3 linked regions of the Homo sapiens genome follow. The protein of the gene in region 3 purifies or fractionates together with the protein of the main gene of each other region. This does not show direct contact. Each region holds a gene or a part of one and is shown on either strand. Other genes may lie near its edges. The genes, in order: CHST10, SEMA4D and DNAJC25-GNG10.

The links.
Region 1: the proteins of DNAJC25-GNG10 (region 3) and CHST10 purify together in Homo sapiens (affinity purification with mass spectrometry, with the first as the bait; one large-scale study listed by BioGRID). This does not show direct contact.
Region 2: the proteins of DNAJC25-GNG10 (region 3) and SEMA4D purify together in Homo sapiens (affinity purification with mass spectrometry, with the first as the bait; one large-scale study listed by BioGRID). This does not show direct contact.

Annotation. Positions count from the first base shown.
Region 1 is NC_000002.12:100,397,155-100,400,803, forward strand, and holds part of CHST10 (carbohydrate sulfotransferase 10), read right to left. Parts: intron 989-3,649; coding exon 754-988; intron 1-753. UniProt on the Homo sapiens protein: Catalyzes the transfer of sulfate from 3'-phosphoadenylyl sulfate (PAPS) to position 3 of terminal glucuronic acid of both protein- and lipid-linked oligosaccharides.
Region 2 is NC_000009.12:89,382,998-89,386,646, forward strand, and holds part of SEMA4D (semaphorin-4D isoform 1 precursor), read right to left. Parts: intron 3,486-3,649; coding exon 3,370-3,485; intron 3,109-3,369; coding exon of another isoform or gene 2,950-3,108; exon of another isoform or gene 1-2,949. UniProt on the Homo sapiens protein: Cell surface receptor for PLXNB1 and PLXNB2 that plays an important role in cell-cell signaling. Regulates GABAergic synapse development. Promotes the development of inhibitory synapses in a PLXNB1-dependent manner.
Region 3 is NC_000009.12:111,629,779-111,633,527, reverse strand, and holds the start of DNAJC25-GNG10 (DNAJC25-GNG10 protein precursor), read right to left. Parts: upstream 2,195-3,749; 5' UTR 2,121-2,194; coding exon 1,785-2,120; intron 1-1,784. Other genes in the region: DNAJC25 (dnaJ homolog subfamily C member 25 precursor), read right to left, coding at 1,785-2,120.

The sequences.
Region 1 (3,649 bases), on a different chromosome or scaffold from region 3:
CTGGAACTAACTCCTGTCTGAAGCTAAATTTCATAAGCAGAGCCCATAATTATTAGGATCGGTTCAGACTAATTGGAATTTAAATAAATAGACATCTCTAAAAAGAGTAGTGAGTAATCAAAACTGCAGTGTATGAGGTTACTTTGTGATGATCTAATTTGTTCCCTAGCAAACATCAGGTTTCCTGAAGCAAGCTGACTCAATCCTCTGAACACAGATGCTTAGTGTGAAATGGGGTACAATTTCTTCCTGCTCGCTGGCACAGAACGCTTGGTCTGCAGGTAAAGAGGCTCCAGGCCCCGGGCCAGGGCTCCCCTCCCAGGCTCTACAGTGTGAGCCCTTCTCACTGCAGAGAGGGTGACCGTGAGGCTTCCTGGTGGCTCTGCGAGTGTGGGGCCCTGGGGATGTCGGACAGAGTGGGTGACTATAACCATCAGCACAGGGAACCTGAAGAGACAAAGGAGGGGGGCCTGGGGGTGGGCGAGCCACCTAAAGTGAGGATCTGCTGTGACAGGTGAGGAGAGCTGGACTGTGGCTGTGCCCCTTTGAAAAGAATCGGTGTCTAAACGAGCCCCACTAACTTGTAAGGCACAACACTAACAGGAAACAACAAAAACAGGCCTGTCTGGACGGCCACCAGTCCCTTCAGGTCAAACCAGCCCTCTTGTGACTCCTCCTTGCTGTCCTCCCCAGCCTCCTCAGCACCGGCCACCAAGACCCTTCCCAGTGGACATTCAGTAGACCCACACACACCATTTAGAACAATCAGCACTTTCTTCCACTGGGTGTTGCCCACTTTGGGAGTCTGGCAGAAAAGAATCTTGTGCTTGTCACAGACAAATATTCGGTCCAGGACAAACTTGGAGACAGGAGTGTGCGAGAGATTCTTCAGGGCATCATCCCTGCAGACGTTTCTGATGAGTTCCAGGCGCTCCATGTAGACCAGGGGCTGAACGAGCTGGCTGTCTGGAAGCTCCTTCCCAGTTGGCTGCAGGTGACACAGAGCAGAAGAGGCCCAGGGACCATTAAAGGAGGCAGGACCGGGCCAAGCAGAGCCGCTCCTGCTGGTCTATCCCCTCCTTTCCATCTGGAGCCTTCTCTTCTTCCCTTCCTTGTCTGTCTACAGAGTGACACCCACTATCCCCAGCCCCTTCATGAGGCCTTCAGAGCCTCTCCACCAGCCCGATCGGCAGGCTGGGCAAGGAAAATGAATGCAAGCTTGGTTCCTCAGATCTTTGGAGAGAAGTTTGACTTTAAAAAACAAAATAAGGCCGGGCACAGTGGCTCATGTCTGTAATCCCAGCACTTTGGGAGGCCAAGGTGGGCAGATCCCAAGGTCAGGAGTTCGAGATCAGCCTGGCCAAGATAGTAAAACCCCATCTCTACTAAAAATACAAAAATTAGCTGGGTGTGGTGGTGCACACCTGTAATCCCAGCTACTTAGGAGGCTCAGGCAGGAGAATCACCTGAACCCAGGAGGTGGAGGTTGCAGTGAGCCTAAGATCGCACTACTGCACTCCAGCCTGGGCGACAGAGCAAGCAAGACTCCGTCTTGGGGGAAAAAAGAAATTAAAAACCAAAGTAAGAAGTTTGGAATCCTCTAGCTAGGGGGAAAAAGATGAAAAAGCTCAAATTCTACATGCTGGTCCATTCTTTTCAGGGCTGTTTTAGAACCTAAGAGAATACCTGTAATGTGAGAGGCCTTGTGTGTGCATGGGTTGGAGGGGGCACAGGGAGATGTGCCAGTACACACAGAAGTTGCTCAGAGGCCCCCTGTCCTCGGTGAGTTAAAGTCCCCTTGCTGCTCACACCTCCTTGTTCTCTGGAGGCATCCTGAGGGCATTCCTGAATAGCAGGGCAGCCTCCACCAACCCCATCGGCCCCCTCTAGTTGTGGCCCTGTTTCTCAGCATTTTTAAGGCTTCAGCTGCTACATCTCTCTCTCTCTCTTTTTTTTTTTTTTTTTATGAGACGGAGTCTCGTTCTGTGGCCCAGGCTGGAGTGCAGTGGCACGATCTCAGCTCACTGCAAGCTCCGCCTCCCGGGTTCCCGCCATTCTCCTGCCTCAGCCTCTCGAGTAGCTGGGACTATAGGTGCCCACCACCATGCCTGGCTAATTTTTTGTTGTATTTTTAGTAGAGACGGGGTTTCACTGTGTTAGCCAGGATGGTCTTGATCTCCTGACCTTGTGATCCGCCACCTCGGCCTCCCAAAGTGCTGGGATTACAGGCGTAAGCCACCACGCCCGGCCATATCTATCTCTTAAAGCTACACAGAACTTCCCAAAATTTCAAAGCAGATGATCCTTCCAAATAATTGTATTGAATGGACCCAAATATCCTTGTTATATCTTTTAAAATGCACTGGGCTTGCCAGGAAATCCATTTATAGGGTAGTTTTAACAACCTGTCCTCCCAGGGGACAACGTCAGTTAGAAAATGGGAAGGACATAAGACTTCTAGAACACACTAGAACCGGGACGCTGGAACTATCAGGATGACAGAGGTCCCCCCTCAGGGCCCCCCACCCAGCTCTTCCTTTATGGATCTACTGTAACCAAACTCTCTTACACTCATGACCTCTGGCCAGGATGCTTTCTCCCTTGTGTGTTTAAGTGAATTTCCTGGGATTCCCTGGTGGTGGGAAGAGCATCCTGGGGGCTACTGACTGCCTGCTTTTCGAGATGAAGACACTGGGGAAGCGAGAGGCCCCTTTGCAGAGTGGCCTCCGTTCCTCCCCACAGGGCATCAGCGGCTGCCCGGGCCCTCCACCCACCATGGAAAACCAGGAGCCACGCCAGGCACTCTCCTTGCTCTTACAAGAACGGGTCTCGTTTAACCTCATTTCCTCATCCATCCCACCTCTTGCTCACTTATCCCAAAAGAGCCTCTCTGTCTTCTCCTCCCTCTCTGTTCCAAACCTAACCCTGATCATGGATGGCACTCAAGAACAGCGCATCAGGAGAGAGCACCTCCCAACAAGTTCCCTTTAGAAAATGCAGAAAACTCTGCACTTTTAGATACTGCTTTTCTTTGAACAAAGAAAAGATATTAGATATTGCTTTTCTTTTAGCAAAGCATTAGAGACAAAAATTCTTCTTCTAAGAGACGAGGTCTTGTTCTGTCACCCAGGCTGGAGTGCAGTGGCACAATCATGACTCACTATAGCCTCCAACTCCTGGGCTCAAGTGATTCTCCCACCTCAGCCTCCCAAGTAGCTGGGGTTATAAACACACACCACCATAACCACCTGATTTTTGTATTTTGTGTAGAGATGAGGTCTCAGTATATTGCCCAGGCTGGTCTCAAACTCCTAGGCGCAATCGATTCTCCTGCCTTAGCCTCCCAAAGTGCTGGGATTATAGGCGTAAGCCACCATGCCCAGCTAAAGAAAAAAGATTTCTTGTTCAATTGTGTGTAAGAATGAGCATTGTTTTCTTTTTTCCCTTTGGAAATATACAAAGCCAACTTAAAGACAAATATTATTTTCTATTTTCCATTCAAACATTCGGCTACACCATGCACAAAGTAAACTTTTTTTCTGAGACCGAGTTTCGCTCTTGTTGCCCAAGCTGGAGTGCAATGGCACGATCTCAGCTCACTGCAACCTCCGCTTCCTGGGTTCAAGAGATTCTCCTGCCTCAGCCTCCC
Region 2 (3,649 bases), about 22 Mb from region 3:
GCTGCAGCCCAAATGAAACTAAGCTGTAAAAACTAAACGACGCCACACAGAGACCAAGGGATGACTGTGGAAGGGAAGAGGGGACAGGGAAGGAGGAACTGGTCGTCAGGACAGCCAGCTGTAACTGCTGCAGGCAGGACCCACTGGTCGATGTGGATGTCAGTGGGTGGGAGAACAGGGCATTTCTGTAGCCTCCAAGTCTGTCCCTGCAAATAAGCATGAATGACTGTGGGGGTTTCCCACATGACTCCCCTGGGAGGTGGGGCTCACTCTCCCCCACCCCCAGTGTGGACTACATGCCCCGACACACTCGACATGGAAAAAGACGGTGGTGACTTGGACAGAATGACCAAGGTCATCACGCTGGTGCGAGTCATACAGATGCCCCATCCCCAGAAAGCGCCCTCTTTGGTGCTCCCCCTAAAACCACGACCCCAAGATAATCACAAGAATACACCAGACACACCACAAAACACCAGACTACTCCTCTCCAGGAGTGCTGAGGTCAGGGAGGCAGGAACAGAGCAGAAGCCGAGGAGATGCAGTGTCCAGTGCAACCTGAGGTGCTGAGCCAGGAATGTGGTGGGCGGGAGGTAGGAGGGTCCAGGGTCTGGGGTTCAGGTAACGCACTGCACCATGACAGCACCTTGGCTCAGATAAATGCACACTGGCTATGTGAGACATCGGACATGTGGAGCTAGGTGGGGGCGCTCAAGATCCTTCTGTGCAATCATCAAAACTCTTCTGTAAATTTAAAATTATTTCAAGACAAAATTTTTAAAGGCAAAGAAAAAAAGCCTGACCAGGCACCTGGCAGCATGAGTGAGGCCCGCTGAGAGCAAGCCTGTCCTGTGCACTCCTGCCCCTCGACGCCCCCTGTCTCCGCCTTCCCTGGGCCTGAGGATTGTCCCCTTGCAGGCAGCTCTCATGCTCCCATCTCTGTCTCTGCTGCTGTGTGTGCGCGTCAGACCCCGAGGGCAGGTTGGAGTGACGGTGGACGTGATCAGAGGCAACTGAGCTGTCTAAGTGCCTTCCTTGCCCTCTGCCACGCTAGCTGTAGCTCAGCATCCCAAGGAGTCCTGGTGAAAATACAGACACAGCCTACTCGGTGGGCTCAGAGAGGGCCGAGCAAACCGCATCTGCTGTGTGCGCCCAAGGAATGGAAAGCAAGGACTTGAGGTATCTGCACACCCACGTTCACAGCAGCACTGTTCACAGAAGCCAGAAGGTGGGAGCAACCGTGTCCATCAAGGGATGAACGCACACACAAAATGCGGGACTCACAAAATGCGGTATTCACATACGACAGAGGAGTATGTAGCCTTGGAAAACCCTGACCCCTGCTACAGCAGGGAGGAACCTTGAGGACTTTATGTTAAGTGAAATAAGCCAGTTACAAATGGATAAATACTGTGTGATTCCACTCATATGAGGTACCCAGACAGAAACAGAAAGCAGAATGGCGGCTGCCCAGGGCTGGAGGAGGGGAAAATGAAGAGTTTGTATTTCACAGGTAAAAAGCTTCTGTTTGGGAAGATGAAAAGCACCCTGCAGACAGACAGTGGTAATGGCTGCAAAACAACGTGAATGTTCTTAATGCCACTGACGTGCACAATGAAAAATGGTTAAGACGGCAAATTTCATCTGATGTGTATTTACCAAAATAAAAAGCAAAACCCCATGCTTGTCATCAGGGGAGAGGAGGTGAGGGTGGAGGCACAGCGCACCTCCCCAGCTGTAGGACAGGGGGAGGGCGTGGTACTGGCCGTTTCTCCATTTGCTGATCACCGTGAGAGAGCCTGATGGGGTCAGGCGGCACAGTCTTTTTACCACTGAACAGCCACTTCCTGCTGCCATGGCCATGGAGCTGGGCCTTCCACCCCCACCTGGAGCCTACTGAGGCCCAAGGAGAAGGCACAGGACCCCACGGCAGGCAGGATGTATTTCCGCTTGTCCAGGCAACTAAGCCACGTCCCCACGAATGGAGGCTCCTACAGAGACAGGCGGGTCGGGTGGTCCAGTAGGACCAGCAAGCGCTTCCCCAAACCCACTGGCTCCTCCTCCTGGGCGCGAGGCTCCCTGTGTGGCCAGCTGCCCTGGTGTGGCCATGTGACCGAGTTCTGGGAGATGGCGGGTGGGCACTGACCCGTAACCCCCTCTGTGCGGCCCTCCTCTTCCTACCCCCTTCTGCCTTTGAGGATCAGTGCCCATGTGCCCTGGAAGCCTCCACCAGCCTGGGTCCCTAAGTGACCCTTGGAACAGAGTGTCATTCTCACGAATGTCCACACCAGGGGCCCAATCTTCATTCTAATGAGAAGTCCACATTTTAGAGATGTTGTAGGTGCCTGCCCAGTCTGGCTGAGGCCACTGAACAGCACGATGGCCCCAGAAGAGCTTCTGGGTCCCCTTCTTTCAACAACGAGGCTGGGGTGAGGCCCCACAGTGGCTAAAGCGTCGACCCTTCAAATCTCCAGGGCTCCCTTTGTGTCCTGGAGACCGAGAGGCTGGTGAACAGATGCCAGTACCCAGTGGCTTATAACTTGCTCAGGCTATTTCATTCTCTTTTCCTTTCAGATCTGAGGGAGAACTCTCCATTAGCAGAGGGGAGGTGACCACGTAAAAGGACCCAGGCTCCCAAGCTTTGTGGATACAGGGGAGGGAAGAGGACAGAAGACCTGGAGGGGTGTTTGCAAATACGCACCTGCCAAGGGTAGGTATCTTACCCGGCCAGACAGGGGCCCTCTTCCTCTGCCTGTTGCTCCCAGCTGAGGGAGGAGAGGACTGACTGGGCCTGGATCCCACAAGGTGGTTGGAGGTCCCGTTAGGAGCCAGGGCCAGGGAGGCAGCCCCCTAAAGGCCAGCGTGGATGCCCGCCCACCCACCCCTGCCAAGGGCTGCTTGGGAGTATTGCAGGCCAGACCAGAGTCTCAGCCACAGGTGGAGACAGCTTTACAGATGAGACGAACCACTTCTCTTGTGGATTTTCCACGGTGACGAGTCAGCTGTATCACTATCATATCCCACAGATGCAGTCTGCACACCCCCCAAGCTCAGGGCATAAAAAGGTGTCTTCATGGAGCAGTGCCCACCTCTCCACAGCCTGTAAAGCTGCACCAACAACTCAATGACATTCCAGCAACTTCGAAGAGAAAGTCCCGTCTCCCCAGGTCTGCCTTCCTGCCTTCCCCAATTCAGATCCCACAGCTCACGGAATGGCTCTGTGTCAAACTCTGAAGGTTGGCTCACCCAGGGCAGACAGACAGAGGGGCCTGCCCAGGAGCCCGACTCCAGCTTGCCAACTCTCCTGTCACCTAGAATCAAAGCCACCGAGCGGAGAAGCCCCCGGTCCAGCTGCCTGCGTCACTTTACCTTCTTTGAAGACAGCAGCAGGGTCTGGACTGGCTCAAAGTCCTGGAAGAGCTGGGTCTCCTCGATGATGTGAACAGCGTGCTCGAGGCTGATGGCTTTGTGCAGAGCTCCCCGGTCTGCAGGGCCAAAGCTACAGGTCAGTGACACTAACCCAGACACAGAAACCAAGGACAGTGACCACAGCGGCAAACTTCACACTCTTCACTCTCAAGTCATTCCCTCCACAGATACTTAGAAAACAATGATGATTTCGCATTAGAAACAAAAAAAGGAAAAGGCT
Region 3 (3,749 bases):
CGTCCACTTGTTTAACTTCCAAAGTCCATAAACTCCCTAAATCCCCAAAAGTCAAACACACTAAATACTATTGCATGGTCTTAGTTTATAAAGCAGTGTGTGAAATCATAATGGGATAACTGATATACAATCCAAATATCACTATCTTTAACCTAATTATCTATATCATCCTAACAACTACTGCATTCCTGACACTCAACCTAAATTCAAGCACCACAACCTTATTACCATCTCGCGCCTGAAACAAATTAACATGATTAACATCCCTAATCCTATCAATTTTACTATCCCTAGTAAATCCCATTATGATTTCACACACTGGTCCAGGGCTCCCTCACGCACCAGCAGGGCTTCTGGCTGACTACAAGGAACAGAGGTTGGAGCTTCATATGCTGAAGTGCCTTGGATGGAGAGTTCTTTCCTATTTTTTCTGGAGTCTTTTTTCCATCACTTTTTACATAATCGGCAACAAAGCCCTTTGGGGCCTCAGCACTTTCCCAGTTCCCCAGCCATCCCTCAGTTAACTGCCAATAAAAATTACAATCTCACTAACGCTAGTGAGAATTTAATGAACTAGGTAAATTAAATTTTACCTAGTTCAATTCACCTAGTTTACCTAGTTCAGGGCCCGCCCCTCCACCACTCATTTTATGACTCCAAATTATCCAAACTGCTCTGGAAGGCATCAATAAAGTTGTTAGCTCCTTGACTATTTTCAGCTCTGGAAAAACAATCTGGAGGAACAATCCAAGGTAAAATTATATCCACTCAAAGTACAATCATTAAAAGCAGGCTACCTGGCAACATAGAAAATTTTGCCTCGGGAAAAAAAAAAAAAGGCTAGAAAAGAAATACTTTACAACTACAATCGCTGACGCATTAGTATGATGGGGCCCTTCAAGCAGTAATACCACCATCAAGTACGATTTATACTTCGTGATGTCCTAGATGGTTTGATTTTTTGCAGTAGTAGAAGAAAACAGCATCGGGCTAAATCTCTCATCCCCACAAGACTCAATAAAACCTGTCAAATGAAATACAAATACATATTCACAAAATATTTCCTACTAGAAATTCTCAGAGTTTTGTACCCAAGTCATTAAGCACCTATTTATGGATCCTATGGAAAGGGGGGCGGTTCGCACACTTATCATTTAATCCCCATAATAACTCTGAGAGGAGGTATCATGGCCTTAATTTTGCATATGAAGAAACAGCTATTTCAACATAATAAGTCACTATCCAAGGTCATACAGGGGTGTCACAGCAAAGACTCACATCCAGCCTTTTGACTGGTGTTCATTGTTCTTCTCAGTGTTTTCTTAGTTCCTTAAACCCAAACTAAGCGTCACCATTAACACTATTTCCAGAAACCAATTTTCTGTCATATCAAACTGATGCGATCACAGTTGTCACTTGATATTCGAGACTTTCCCTGTTGTGGGCTACCCCAGATCCTACTAATAATGATCACCCTGCTTTTCGAATGTGAAATGCACGTTATTAAAATATTTTCACGAAATCGTAAGATGGCCAAAGTTTTGCATAACAATGTCACAAAAAGGAAGAGGGCAAGGAGGCTAGCTGTGCCCCCCAAGGCCCCGTGGGGCCGACTCGGCTCTTTCACAGGGCCACGTGGGAAACGTGAGTATCTTAAAGGTCGCGGTGGTGGCTGTGCTCAGTTTCGGGGTCACAGAGGCCCACGCTCCGCGGACCGGGGTCGGAAGGCGCCGTGGGCTTCCCGCGGCCAGTCTTCGAAGCCCCTCCACGCCCGCAGGCCTCACCTTGAGTGTCTCGTAGGCGGTTGCCACCAGCAGGAAAGCCTCCTCGGCGCTCTGCGGCGTCCGCCCGGGGCCCTCGTCTCCGGGCTGGGGCCGGTAGCGGTCAGGGTGGTAGCGCCGGGCCAGCTGGCGGTAGGCCCGCGCGATCTCCGCCTTGCCCGCCGAGCGGCTCACGCCCAGCACCTCGTAGCAGTCCCGCGTGCCGCAGTAGAGCCCCTCCACCAGGGCCCCCGCGGGCCGCACCAGCAGCAGCGCCGGCAGCAGGGGCGCCAGCAGCATCCACCAGCGCCGGCCGGCAGCCCCGGCTCCCCAGCCGGGAGAGAGCAGCGGCGCCCCCATCCCCAGCCTCGCTGGCGGCTCTGCCACCCCAGCGATTCTGCAGCACTCAGCCGCGCGCCCGGCTAGTCCCGTCTGGCCCCAGCTACACGTCAGCAGCCGACGCCTCCGCGCAGGCGCACAGGGCGCGGCTACAGCAACTACTTCCTTCGCAACCCGTTGGTAGGGAGAAGGACGCCTCAGCCACTAGGCTGCTTCCGGTGTGTCACTGAACACCTTCCCCGTACCAGCAGCTGGAGGATTTGTTTGGTAGCACCTGGGGGATGGCTCTGTCCCGGGCGCACTTAGGCGGGCTGTGCGGAGCGCTTTACCTTCCACAGTGTCCGGCACACGCATCCTTTTCGACATCATCACTTGACCTGCTGCAATAGGTAACCTACCTGGCTCTCTCGCATCCCGTTATCAGCGTCAAGAAGATTTGCACGTAGGCCTTTAAAGCCAGCCACCAGCCCCGGGCGCCTTCCTCTCACTAACCCCATGCTGCCTTTCCAAACGGAAGATGAACTTAGCAATTCTAGGCGCTGCCTGTGTACTAGGTAGGGACCCTGAAAGTTCATAGCCATCTAGTTCAGTTTTTCTCAGCCTCCACGCTATTGACATTTTAGACCAGATAATTCTTTGCCTTTGAGGGGCTGCCCTTTGCATTGTAAGATGTTTAGCAGCATATCTGGCCTCTCCACACTAAATGCCAGTAGTGCCACCACCCCCAGTCATGACAATAAAAAATCTCTGTACGCGGGTCTGTGCGTCCACCTTGGGCTGCGCGTTCCCGGGACAACCTGCTGGAAGGATCAAGCGATCCTTCCAAAATGCTAGGATTACAGGCGTGAGCCACCGTGCCCGGCCTACATTTGAATTTCAGATAATAATTTTTTAGTATAAGTATGTCCAAAATATTGCATGGGACTATATGGCAACATGAAAAACTTTGCCTCAAAAAATCTGTTTCTATCATTCATCTGGTAAATGTTTATTGAGTCTCTACTCTGAGCCGGGCACTGTTACTTAGGCACTGGGGATACAGTGGTGAGCAAAGTAAACAAGAAGCTCAACTTCAGAGAGCATATATTCTGATGGAGGATGACAGTCAGTAACAAATAAATAAACGTTCAGATATAATCAACTCTTTTAATAAAGTGAAATCAAATACTGATACATAGCATTATATACTTATAATACATAATGAATATACATTATAATTTTGTATTTCTCATTGAATAAATATATATCTCTCATTACATATATCTCCCTCATTACATATATAATATATATAATCTCATTACACATATATGTCTCTGTCATTACATATATAACATATATGTGTCTATTTTTCACCTCAGCCCACTAAATATTGCATGGGACTATATAGCAACATATACAGTTATATATGTAATGAGAGAGATACATGTATATGTAATGAGATACAAAAGTTATATATATAATAACAATTTTGTGTATCATATATGCTTATTTACATTTGTATCTCATATATGTTTATATATGCTTATATATGGCTTATATATATGCTTATATATATATATAATGAGAAAGATAAAATGAATGGAAACACATGGGAGGGTCTCCTGAAATTATTAGGATCGGGATCAATTACAAGCATCAATTCCAGTAGGA